Linked DNA regions of Homo sapiens: region 2 is linked to region 1. The links come from fine-mapping of genetic effects on gene expression. A gene starts in region 1. The other region holds a variant in brackets. All regions are shown on one strand. Distances are between the middles of the regions. Region 1 holds the start of WIPI2 (WD repeat domain, phosphoinositide interacting 2). Region 2 has its middle 39 kb from the start of WIPI2.

The links.
Region 2: its variant is fine-mapped to the expression of WIPI2 in whole blood (TOPMed, PIP above 0.99).

The regions. Positions count from the first base shown.
Region 1 is chr7:5,186,747-5,192,123 of GRCh38, forward strand. It overlaps WIPI2 (WD repeat domain, phosphoinositide interacting 2), which reads left to right and starts at 3,487. Exons shown (of 13, transcript NM_015610.4): 1 at 3,487-3,747. The coding sequence starts at 3,674. RefSeq lists silencers at 469-598, 3,272-3,921, 3,932-3,981.
Region 2 is chr7:5,148,960-5,154,336 of GRCh38, forward strand. No RefSeq gene overlaps it. Among named protein-coding and RNA genes, the nearest start is that of WIPI2, 39 kb to the right of the region's middle. The variant G/C (reference allele first, on the strand shown) is at 2,744.

The DNA.
Region 1 (5,377 bases):
TATAAAATAAATATATGTATCTCTAAATCTTGCCTTTTCTTCCTCTCTTAATGGTCTCTTGAAAATAGCCCATTCTTCTCAATGTTGATGAAGGCCAATCTCTCATTTTGTGGTTACTACTTTTTTTCTTTTGAGACAGAGTCTCGCTCTGTCACCCAGGCTGGAGTGCAGTGGTGCGATCTCAGCTCACTGCAACCTCCACCTCCCGGGTTCACGCCATTCTCCTGCCTCAGCCTCTTGAGTAGCTGGGACCACAGGCACCAGCCACCACACCCGGCTAATTTTTTGTATTTTTAGTAGAGACGGGGTTTCGCCATGTCAGCCAGGATGGTCTCGATCTCCTGACCTCGTGATCTGCCTGTCTTGGCCTCCCAACATGCTGGATTACAGGCGTGAGCCACCGCGCCCGGCCTGTGGTTACTACTTTTTAAAGAACTTGTTTTGTTTTGAGACAGGATCTTGCTCTGTCACCCAGGCTGGAGTGTAGTGGCGCGGTCATAGCTCACTGCAGGCTTGAACTCCCAGGCTCAAGCCATCCTCCCGCCTTAGCCTCTGAAGGAGCTGGGACCACAGGCGCACACCACCACGCCCAGCTAATTTTTGTATTTTTGTAGAGACCGGGTTTCCCCATGTTGCCTAGTCTGGTTTCAAACTCCTGGACTCAAGCAATCCGCCTGCCTCAGCCTCCCAAAGTGTTGGGATTACAGGCATGAGCCAACACATCCGCTTTAAAGTACCTGTTTAGACTACTTTGTTTATCCCAAAATCATGAAGGCATTCTCGTTTCCTTCTAGAAATTCTATTGTTTTTACCTCTCACATCTAGGACTGTAATCCATCTCAAATTAATTTTTGAATATGGTGTGAGGTAGGGGTACTTATTCCTTTTATTGAAAAGACCATCCTTTCCTCAATGATTTCCAATGCGTTCTTGACCCTATAATTAGAATTAACTTCTGTAAGCACTCATTAGATCGTTCCACTTTCCTGCCTGTCTTTAACGGCAGACCATTGCTCTTATGGACAATAATCAGATAATGGTCAGTTCCTTGCGTAACAATACGCAGCTTGATCTGGCCACCTCCTGTCTCTCCTGCCAAATCTTGCCTTGTGTCTGCCTTTCCACTCTGAACATAGAGTTCTTTGGACAGGTCACACCCTCATCCTCAAGCCCTTCCCATATAGAGTGTTTTCATGCCCTTAGACTAGTTACTCAAACTTCAGGTCTCATCTCTTCCAGGAGCCTTCTCAATAGCACAGTCCCTGTCCCTTAAATATAGGTTGTGTGACTTCTATATATGCATTCATGGTCAGGCACAGTGGCTCATGCCTGTAATCCCAGCACTTTGGGAGGCCGAGGCAGGCAGATTACCTGAGGTCGGAAGTTCGAGACCAGCGTGACCAACATGGAGAAATCCCGTCTCCACTAAACATACAAAAATTAACTGGGCGTGATGGTGCACACCTGTAATCCCAGCTACTCGGGAGGCTGAGGCAGGAGAATCACTTGAACCCGGAAGGTGGACGTTGCAGTGAGCCGAGATTGCGCCATCGCACTCCAGCCTGGTCAAGAAGGTGAAATTCCGTCTCAAAAAAAAAAAAAAAAAAAAAAAAAATATATATATATATATATATATATATATATTCGCTCATTGTACCCCCGAGTTTCTAATTATATTTATTTATTTTATTTTTTGAGATGGAGTCTCACTGTGTCGCCCAGGCTGGAGTGCAGTGGCATGATCTCGGCTCACTGCAGCCTTCACCTCCTGGGTTCAAGCAATTCTCCCATCTCAGTCTCCTGAGTAGCTGGGATTACAGGGCCGTGCCACCACAACTGGCTAATATTTTACATTTTTCCTAGAGACAGGGTTTCACCATGTTGGGCAGGCTAGTCTCAAACTCATGACCTCAGGTGATCCACCTGCCTCAGCCTCCCAAAGTGCTGGGGTTACAGGCGTGAGTCACCATGCCCAGCCTATTTTATTTTACTTTTTAGATGGAGTCTCACTCTGTCGTCCGTCCAGGCTGGAGTGCAGAGGTGCAATCTCGGCTCACTGCAACCTCCACCTGTGGGGCTCAAGCAATTCTCCCACCTCAGCCTCCCTAGTAGCTGAGATTACAGGTGCCCACCACCATACCCAGCTAACTTTTGTACTTTTAGTAGAGACGGGGTTTCACCATGTTAGCCAGGCTGGTCTGGAACTCCCGACCTCAGGTGATCCACCCGCCTCAGCCTCCCAAAGTGCTGGGATTACAGGTAAGAGCCACCACACCTGGCCTTCTATTTATATTTAAATATCTCCCCATTATAACTTCTCTGAGGGAAAGGAGGAGGCCTATTTAGTTCACATGAGAGGTGCGTCCTAAATACTGTTGAATGAATGAATAAATTTAAGGGACGATTCTGTCCCAGGAACCCAGACAGTATGGACCTTGGAGAAACAGGACGTTTCCAGTCTCAGATCTAGCACTTGGCTAATAATTATTTCTGAGCCTCGATTTTCAAATCTGTAAAATTAAGATATACTATTCTCTACTTAGGATTGTAATGGGCATCAAATAAGATAATGTGGCTGGGCACAGTGGCTCACATCTGTAATCCCAGTACTTTGGGAGGCCGAGGTGGGAGCATCACTTGAGGCCAGGAGTGCGAGACCAGCCTAGGCAACAGAGTAAGACCCCCCCCGCCCCCACCCCATCTCTACAAAAAACTTAAAAGTTAGCAGGGTGTGGTGGCATGCATTTGTGGTCCCAGCTACTTGGGAGGCTAAGGTGGGAGGATCGCTTGAGCCTGAGTTTGAGGCTGCAGTGAGCTGTGATTGAGCCTCTGCACTCCAGCCTAGGCAACAGAGCGAGACCTTGTCTTTCAAAATAATAAAATGATAAGGTAATGCGCAGAAGCATTCAGCACAGTGATTGGCACATGGAGGGCCCATTGGGGTGTTTTTGTTTTTGTTTTTGTTGTTGTTTGAGACAGAGTCTCGCTCTATGGCCCAGGCTGGATGGATTGCAGTGGCATGATCTCGGCTCACTGCAATCTCCGCCTCCTGGGTTCAAGCGATTATCTTGCCTCAGCCTCCCGAGTAGCTGGGATTACAGGCGTACACCACCAAGCCCGGCTAATTTTTCTTGTATTTTTAGTAGAGACGGGGTTTCACCATGTTGGCCAGGCTGGTCTCGAACTTCTGATCTTAGGTGATCCGCCCGCCTTGGCCTCCCAAAATGCTGGGATTACAGGCCACCGTGCCTGGCCATTGAGTGTTATTAAGAGGAGGGTACGCAGAAAACAGACTCCCGCCAGCTCTGCCCCATGCGCATGAGCGGCCGCCGCTCGCCCTCAGCCAGGCCCAGCGCGCCCCGACGCGTCCCCACGCCTGCGTGATCCACCGGAACCCAAGCCCAGGCAGGCGGTGAGAGGGCGGGGCCTCCGCAGTGCGACTGCGCCGCTCGAGGCCGTGCGTCGCGGGGGCGGGGCCGCGCAGGCGTACCGGGTGCCCCGGCTCTGGAGCATAAACAAGAGCGGGGACGGGATGAGGCGGCGGTTGATCCCAGGGTGGCGAGTGGCGGCGACCGAGGCGGCGAGCGGGGCCCGGCGCCGACCCTGAGTGCAGCCTGACCCGCCCTCGCGCGCGCGCCCTCCCCGGCCGGGCCCACTCGCCGCGCGCCCAGCCATGAACCTGGCGAGCCAGAGCGGGGAGGCCGGCGCCGGCCAGCTGCTCTTCGCCAACTTCAACCAGGACAACACGTAAGGCCGGGGTCGGGGGTCGGAGTCGGGGTGAGGCCAGGGTCGGACCCGGGCTAGGGGGAGGGCCTCGCTGCCAAGCTCGGCGGCGTCGCAGGCTCGGCCTCCCCGCGGGCCAAGGCGCGCAGAGGCGTCCCCAGGGGCGGGCCCGGGGCGTGCAGGGAGGGGCGCCCTCCAGGGAGACCCTCGGGTGCTGGCCTGGAGCTGCGGTCCCGGAGCGGGAGAGGTGGTGGAGAGGGGGCTGCTTTCACCCTCTTGCGGGGAGGCCCCCTGGCTTCAGACTTAACTACTTCTCGCAAAGTTGGGGCCGAACTTTGGGGCTTGACTTGTCTTGGCCGCCTGTGGAGCGCTGGGTGTGGGTCGCTTCCTCTCCTCTCGTCTCCTCTTCCCGCTGCTTGCTCAGCGTCTCCCACTCACTCTCCTTTGAATCAGGCCCTTCTCCTTGTCTTTTCATCGTCTTAAGACCCTTCTCTCTCTCTTGATTTTCTTTTCTTCGTTTCTCACTGTTTTTTTGTTTGTTTTTGTTTTTTGGGGTTTGTTTTGTTTTGAGACAGAGTCTTGCTCTGTTGCCCAGGCTGGAGTGCAGTGGTGCCATCTCAGCTCACTGCAACCTCCGCCTCCTGGGTTCAAGCGATTCTCCTGCCTCAGCCTCCCGAGTAGCTGAGACTACAGGCACGCGCCACTGTGCCCAGCTAACTTTTTTGTATTTGTAGTAGAGACAGGGTTTCACCATGTTGGTCAGGCTGGTCTCAAATTCCTGACCTCAAGTGATCCGCCCACCTCAGCCTCCCAAAGTGCTGGGATTACAGGTGTGAGCCACCGTGCGCGGCCCTCCCTGTTCTTTTTGGGACATCAACTTTGATGTCTTCTCCAGCAAGTAACAAACTTAGCAATAACCTTGGCATCTGACCTAGCTAGGGAGAAACTGAGCCAAGAGAGGCGTTACGGACCAGTGCCCCAGGAGTCTCAGAGCTCCAGCGGGTGGGTCATCCTCAGGGCAAGAGAAGGCCTTAATGCCAGCCCGTGCATTCGGAACGCTGTTTGTCCCCACTGATACGGGTTGGATGCTGCCTGGGAGGAGGACTTGTGGGGATGGTTAATAGATGAGCGAGCTTTCTGGAGAGAGAAGGGTGAGTTATGGGGTTGGCAGGGAGGAGAGCCATCTTGGAAGTGAGTAAGAGGAAGTGAGGAAAGAGAAGGAGTGGGGCATTTGGCATCTTACTAAGTCATTGGTTGAGTTGTTACTGGCTGAGTGGAATTAACATAGCAGAAGGTAAGATTCTTTAGGAAATTAAAAGTGAATTGTAGAATGGACAACACTCAGTGGGTGGTGTACAGCAGGCACTCAATAGCACCTCCCCAAAGCTGTGAAGACAGTCGCACAGTGGGACTGTATTGAGAGTCGGAAGGGGCAAATCACCTCATCCAACTACAGATGAGGAAATCCTTCCGAAAGGCTCCAAGCTGGTCTGGGTTTTGGAATTGGTTAATAGTGGAGCGGGGGCAGGAGTGGAATCTCGCCTCCTGAGCTCTCTTCCAATGTTCTTTCTGCTCTGCCATGCTGTTTTTTTTTCTGTTTACAGAGTAGAATTCTGAAGACAGTGAATTTAGAAATAATAGCATAACAACGTGT
Region 2 (5,377 bases), 38 kb before region 1:
GATTTGAGTATGGCAGATTTGGGTATGAGGGTGATATGGTTTGGGTCTGTGTCCCCGCCCAAATTTCATGTTAAATTATAATCCCCGGCTGGCCGCGCTGGCTCACACCTGTAATCCCAGCACTTTGGGAGGCCGAGGCAGGTGGATCACCTGAGGTCAGGAGTTCGAGACCACCCTGGCCAACATGATGAAACTCCGTCTCTACTAAAAAAACAAAGATTAGCCGGACATGGTGGTACATGCCTGTAATCCAAGCTACTTGGGAGGCTGAGGCAGGAGAACTGCTTGAAGCCGGGAGGCAGAGGCTGCAGTGAGCTGAGATTGCACCACTGCACTCCAGCCTGGGCAACAAAGCAAGACTCCATCTCAGGAAAAAAAAAAAAAAAAAAAATTATAATCCCCAGTGTTGGAGGTGGGTCTGGTGGGAGGCGATTGGATCATGGGGGTAGGTTTCCCCTTTCGTGCTGTACTCGTGAGAGTGAGTGACTTATCATGAGAGCTGGTTGTTTAAAAGTGTGCAGCACCTCCCGTCTTTCTCTCTCTTCCTCCTGCTCTGGCCATGTAAGACATTCCTGCTTCCCCTTTGCCTTCCGCCATGACTGTCAGTTTCCTGAGGCCTCCCCAGCCACGCTTCCTGTACAGGCTGCAGAACTGTGAGTCAATTAGACCTCTTTTCTTTATAAATTACCCAGTCTCAGGTAGTTCTTCATAGCAGTATGAGAATGAACTAATACAAAGGGGTTGTGTCCTGGAACCAATCCCCTCCAAATATGAAGGGCTGACTTTATTTTATTATGGTACAAAGGCTAGTACAGTGGCTCCCACCTGTAATCCCAGCACTTTGGGAGGCCAAGGTAGGAGGATCGCGTGAACCTGGGAGCTTGAGGCTGCAGTGAGCTATGATCACACCACTGCACTCCAACCTGACCAGCAGAGCGAGACCCTGTCTCAAAAAAAAAAAAAGTAATAATAGGCTGGGGGAGGGGGCTCATGCCTGTAATCCCAGCACTTTGAGAGGCCAAGGCGGGCGGACCACAAGGTCAGGAGTTCAAGACCAGCCTGGCCAACATGGTGAAACCCTGTCTCTACTAAAATACAAAAATTAGCTGGGTGTGGTGGCAGGCATCTGTAATCCCAGCTACTAGGAAAGCTGAGGCAGGAGAATTGCTTGAACCCAGGAGGCAGAGTTTGCAGTAAGGAGAGACAGCGCCACTGCACTCTAGCTTGGGCAACAAATTGAGACTCCCTCTCAAAAAAAAAAAAAAGAAAAGAAAAAGTAATAATAAATGGTTGAAAATGTTTTCCTTCCCAATAAATTCATGGTTGCTATGAAACAGTAGCAAAAAAAATTAAATTCCTATATCTATTTTTAGAGAGTTTTCCAATAATTTCTCTTTTATATTGATTAGTGTCACCAGAGATTTGTCTATCACTTGTTTATTTTTCCAAAGATAAAATCTTTATTATTTTTCCTATCTTCCCTAGTAAGAGAGAAAATAAAACTCTTACAGCTATCATCTTCTAATATCAAGATAACATGAAAACTCCTGTAAAATGAATGGGAAGGGGAATATTCCAACTCTAATTACAAAATGAGAGCTAAGAACGTATGCAACTATATTATTTAGGACATGGATAAAACTGCTGTAATAGAGCTCCCAAAATAAAAGTGCTCTAAAAATTACTGATAAAGCCGAACGTGGTGGCTCATATCTGTAATCCCAGCATTTTGGAAGGCTGAGGTGGGTGGATCACTTGAGGCCAGGAGTTCAAGACCAGCCTGGGCAACATGGTGAAACCCTGTCTCTACTAAAAAATACAAAAATTTGTCGGAAGTAGTGGCTCATGCCTGTAATCCAGCACTTTGGGAGGCCGAGGCAGGTGGATCCTGAGGTCAAGAGATCAAGACCACCCTGGCCAACACGGTGAAACCCCGTCTCTACTAAAAATGCAAAAATTAGCTGGGTGTGGTGGTGCGCACCTGTAGTCCCAGCTATTCAGGAGGCTGAGACAGGAGAATCGCTTGAACCCAGGAGGCAGAGGTTGCAGTGAGCCAAGATCACACCACTGCACTCCAGCCTGGCAAGAGAGCAAGACTCTGTCTCCAAAAAAAAAAAAAAAAAAATTTGCCAGGTGTGGTGGTGCACACCTGTCTGTAGTGCTAGCTACTTGGGAGGCTGAGGCAGAAGGATTGCTCGAACTCAGAAGGTGGAAGTTGCAGTGAGCCAAGATCATGCCACTAATCCACAGCCTGGGCAACAGAGTGAGACTATCTCAAAAAAAAAAAAAAATCACCAATGATTATTTCTCATTAAAAAAATCCATGTGACTCCGAAGGAGTCAGAAAACTAGACTCCTAAATGAGTGCTCTAGCTGGGCTTGGTGGTTCACACCTGTAATTCCAGCACTTTGGGAGCCTACGGTGGGAGGATCGATTGAGCCCAGTTCAAGACCAGCCTGGGCAACATGGCAAGACATCATCTCTAAAAAACTTTTTTTTTCTCACGCCTGTAATCCCAGCACTTTGGGAGGCCAAGACGGGTGGATCACGAGGTCAGGAGATCGAGACAATCCTGGCTAACACGGTGAAACCCCGTCTCTACTAAAAATACAAAAAATTAGCCGGGTGTGTTGGCAGGCGCCTGTAGTCCCAGCTACTCGGGACAATGGCGTGAATCCAAGAGGCGGAGCTTGCAGTGAGCCAAGATCGCGCCCCTGCACTCCAGCCTGGGCGACAGAGCAA[G/C]ACTCCATCTCAAACACAAACAAACAAACAAAAACACCCTTAGGTAATGATCACCAATGACTGCTGACATCTTTTTGAAAAAAAAAAAATAAGAAAACCAGACATCCTGTCCATCTATATGGCTGTACACGACATCACCTATGAGTAATCCTGGGGAAAAAAAAAAAAAAAAAACTTGAGTCTAAGCCTCTTGATCTAATCAACAAATTACAGGACATAAAAGGGCAGCAGAAAAATATGTCAAATGACACCACAATGAGACAATCTGCAAAATCCAGGCTGTAAGAAATTCTACACTTTTTTCTACAAATAAAATGCCAACAGAGAGAGGGACGGAGGAAAGGAAGAGAGGGAGAAGGAATCTATGGATCACAAGAGAATCAAGGAACATATCACTAGTGATATATGGATCCTATTATCTAAACAAGAGCTCACTGAGCTTTCCAATTCATGTGCTTCCTCTTGTTAACCGCACTGGCTCATTCCGGGTCTTCTGTGCCATCCTGCTTCCAGGTCTCCACTGGGAAAAAATAGCAACAGGAAAAATGGCATTTTATCAGGGCCATGTACTGGGAAGATGCTTAACACTGTCTCCATGGTTTGATATTTTATATATATAATATATAATGAATATATATAACATAAAAATATATATTTGTATGTAAAATATAAAAATATGGATATATAAAATATAAATATAAAATAGGCCAGGCATGGTGGCTCACGCCTGTAATCTCAGCACTTTGGAAGGCCAAGGTGGGTGGATCACCTGAGGTCAGGAGTTTGAGACCAGCCTGGCCAACATGGTGAAACCTCGTCTCTACTAAAAATAGAAAAATTACCTAGGTGTGGTGGCAGGTGCCTATAATCCCAGCTACTCTGGAGGCTGAGGCAGGAGACTCGCTTGACCCGGGAGGTGGAGGCTGCAGCGAGCTGAGATCATACCATTGCGCTCCAGCCTGGGTGACAGAGTAAGACTCTGTCTCAGAAAAAAATATATATAATTATATATATGTAATATAAAATGTTATTTATATGTAATATATTGCATAAATATATTTTATATGTAATATAAATATATTTTTATGTAATATAAAAATACATAAATGCAAAACTATTTATATATAAATTACAATATATTTTATATAATATGGTTTGTATTATATATTATATACTATATATTATATAAATATGTCTTTATAAAGATTTTTATATCATATAGTTCATATTATAAATATATAGTTTATATTATATATAATATGTAACAGATGATATCTTTTTTTTTTTTTGAGACAGAGCGTTGCTCTGTCACCCAGGCTGGAGTGCAGTGGCTCGATCTTGGCTCACTGCAAGCTCCGCCTCCCGGGTTCATGCCATTGTCCTGCCTCAGCCTCCCGAGTAGCTGGGACTACAGGCACCCGCCACCACGCCTGGCTAATTTTTTGTATTTTTAGTAGAGACGGGGTTTCATCATGTAAGCCAGGATGGTCTTGATCTCCTGACCTTGTGATCCACCCACCTCGGCCTCCCAAAGTGCTGGGATTACAGGCATGAGCCACTGCACCCGGTGACTTTTTTTTTTTTTTTTTTTTTTTTTTGAGACAGTCTCGCTCTGTCACCCAAGCTGGAGTGCACTGGGGCAATCTGGGCTCACTGCAGCCTCTGCCTCCCAGGTTCAAGTGATCTCCCCACCTCAGCCTCCCAAGTAGGTAGGATTACAGACATGTGTCACCATGCCTGGCTGATTTTTTGTTTTGTTTCTTTGAGACAGAGTCTCGCTCTGTCACCCAGGCTGGAGTGCAGTGGCCCAATCTTGGCTCATTGCAACCTCTGCCTCCCAGGTTCTGGTGATTTTCCTGCCTCAGCCTCCCAAATAGCTGGGACTACAGTCACATGCCACCATACCCAGCTGATTTTTGTAATTTTAGTAGACATGAGGTTTCACCATGTTGGCCAGGATGGTCTCAATCTCTTGACCTGGTGATCTGCCCACCTCGACCTCCCAAGGTACTGGGATTACAGGTGTGAGCCACCGTGCCTGGCCCTTTTTTAATATTTTTAATAGAGAAGGGGTTTCACCATGTTGGCCAGGCTGGTCTTGAACTTCTAACCTCGAGTGATCTGTGTCCTTCAGCCTCCCAAAGTGCTGGGATTATAGGCATGAGCCGTCACACTGGGCCTATAATACATATTATATATTATATATAAATAATATATTTTTATATTACAATGTTTTCCTTTTCAGAGGCAGGGTCTCACTCTGTTGCTGAGGCTGGAGTGCAGTGGTGTGGTCAAAGCTCACTGCAGCCTCAACTTTCTGGACTCAAGAGATCCTTCCACCCCAGCCTACCAAGTATCTGGGACTACAGGCGCACACCACCATGCCTGGCTAATTTTTGTATCTTTTGTAGAGGCAAGGTTTCACTCTGTTGCCCAGGCTGGTCTTGCATTCCGGGCTTCAAGCGATCCTCCTGCCTCAGACTCCCAAAGTGCTAGGACTGCGGGTGTGAGCCACCAAGATCAATTTCTTCATTCCCCCAAAAATAGAAGCCATGGAGGCTCCTGACTGCCTGGTGGCTGCCAATGATTTTTCACCAACAGACCCCTGCCCCTTTTTTTTTTTTTTTTTTTTAA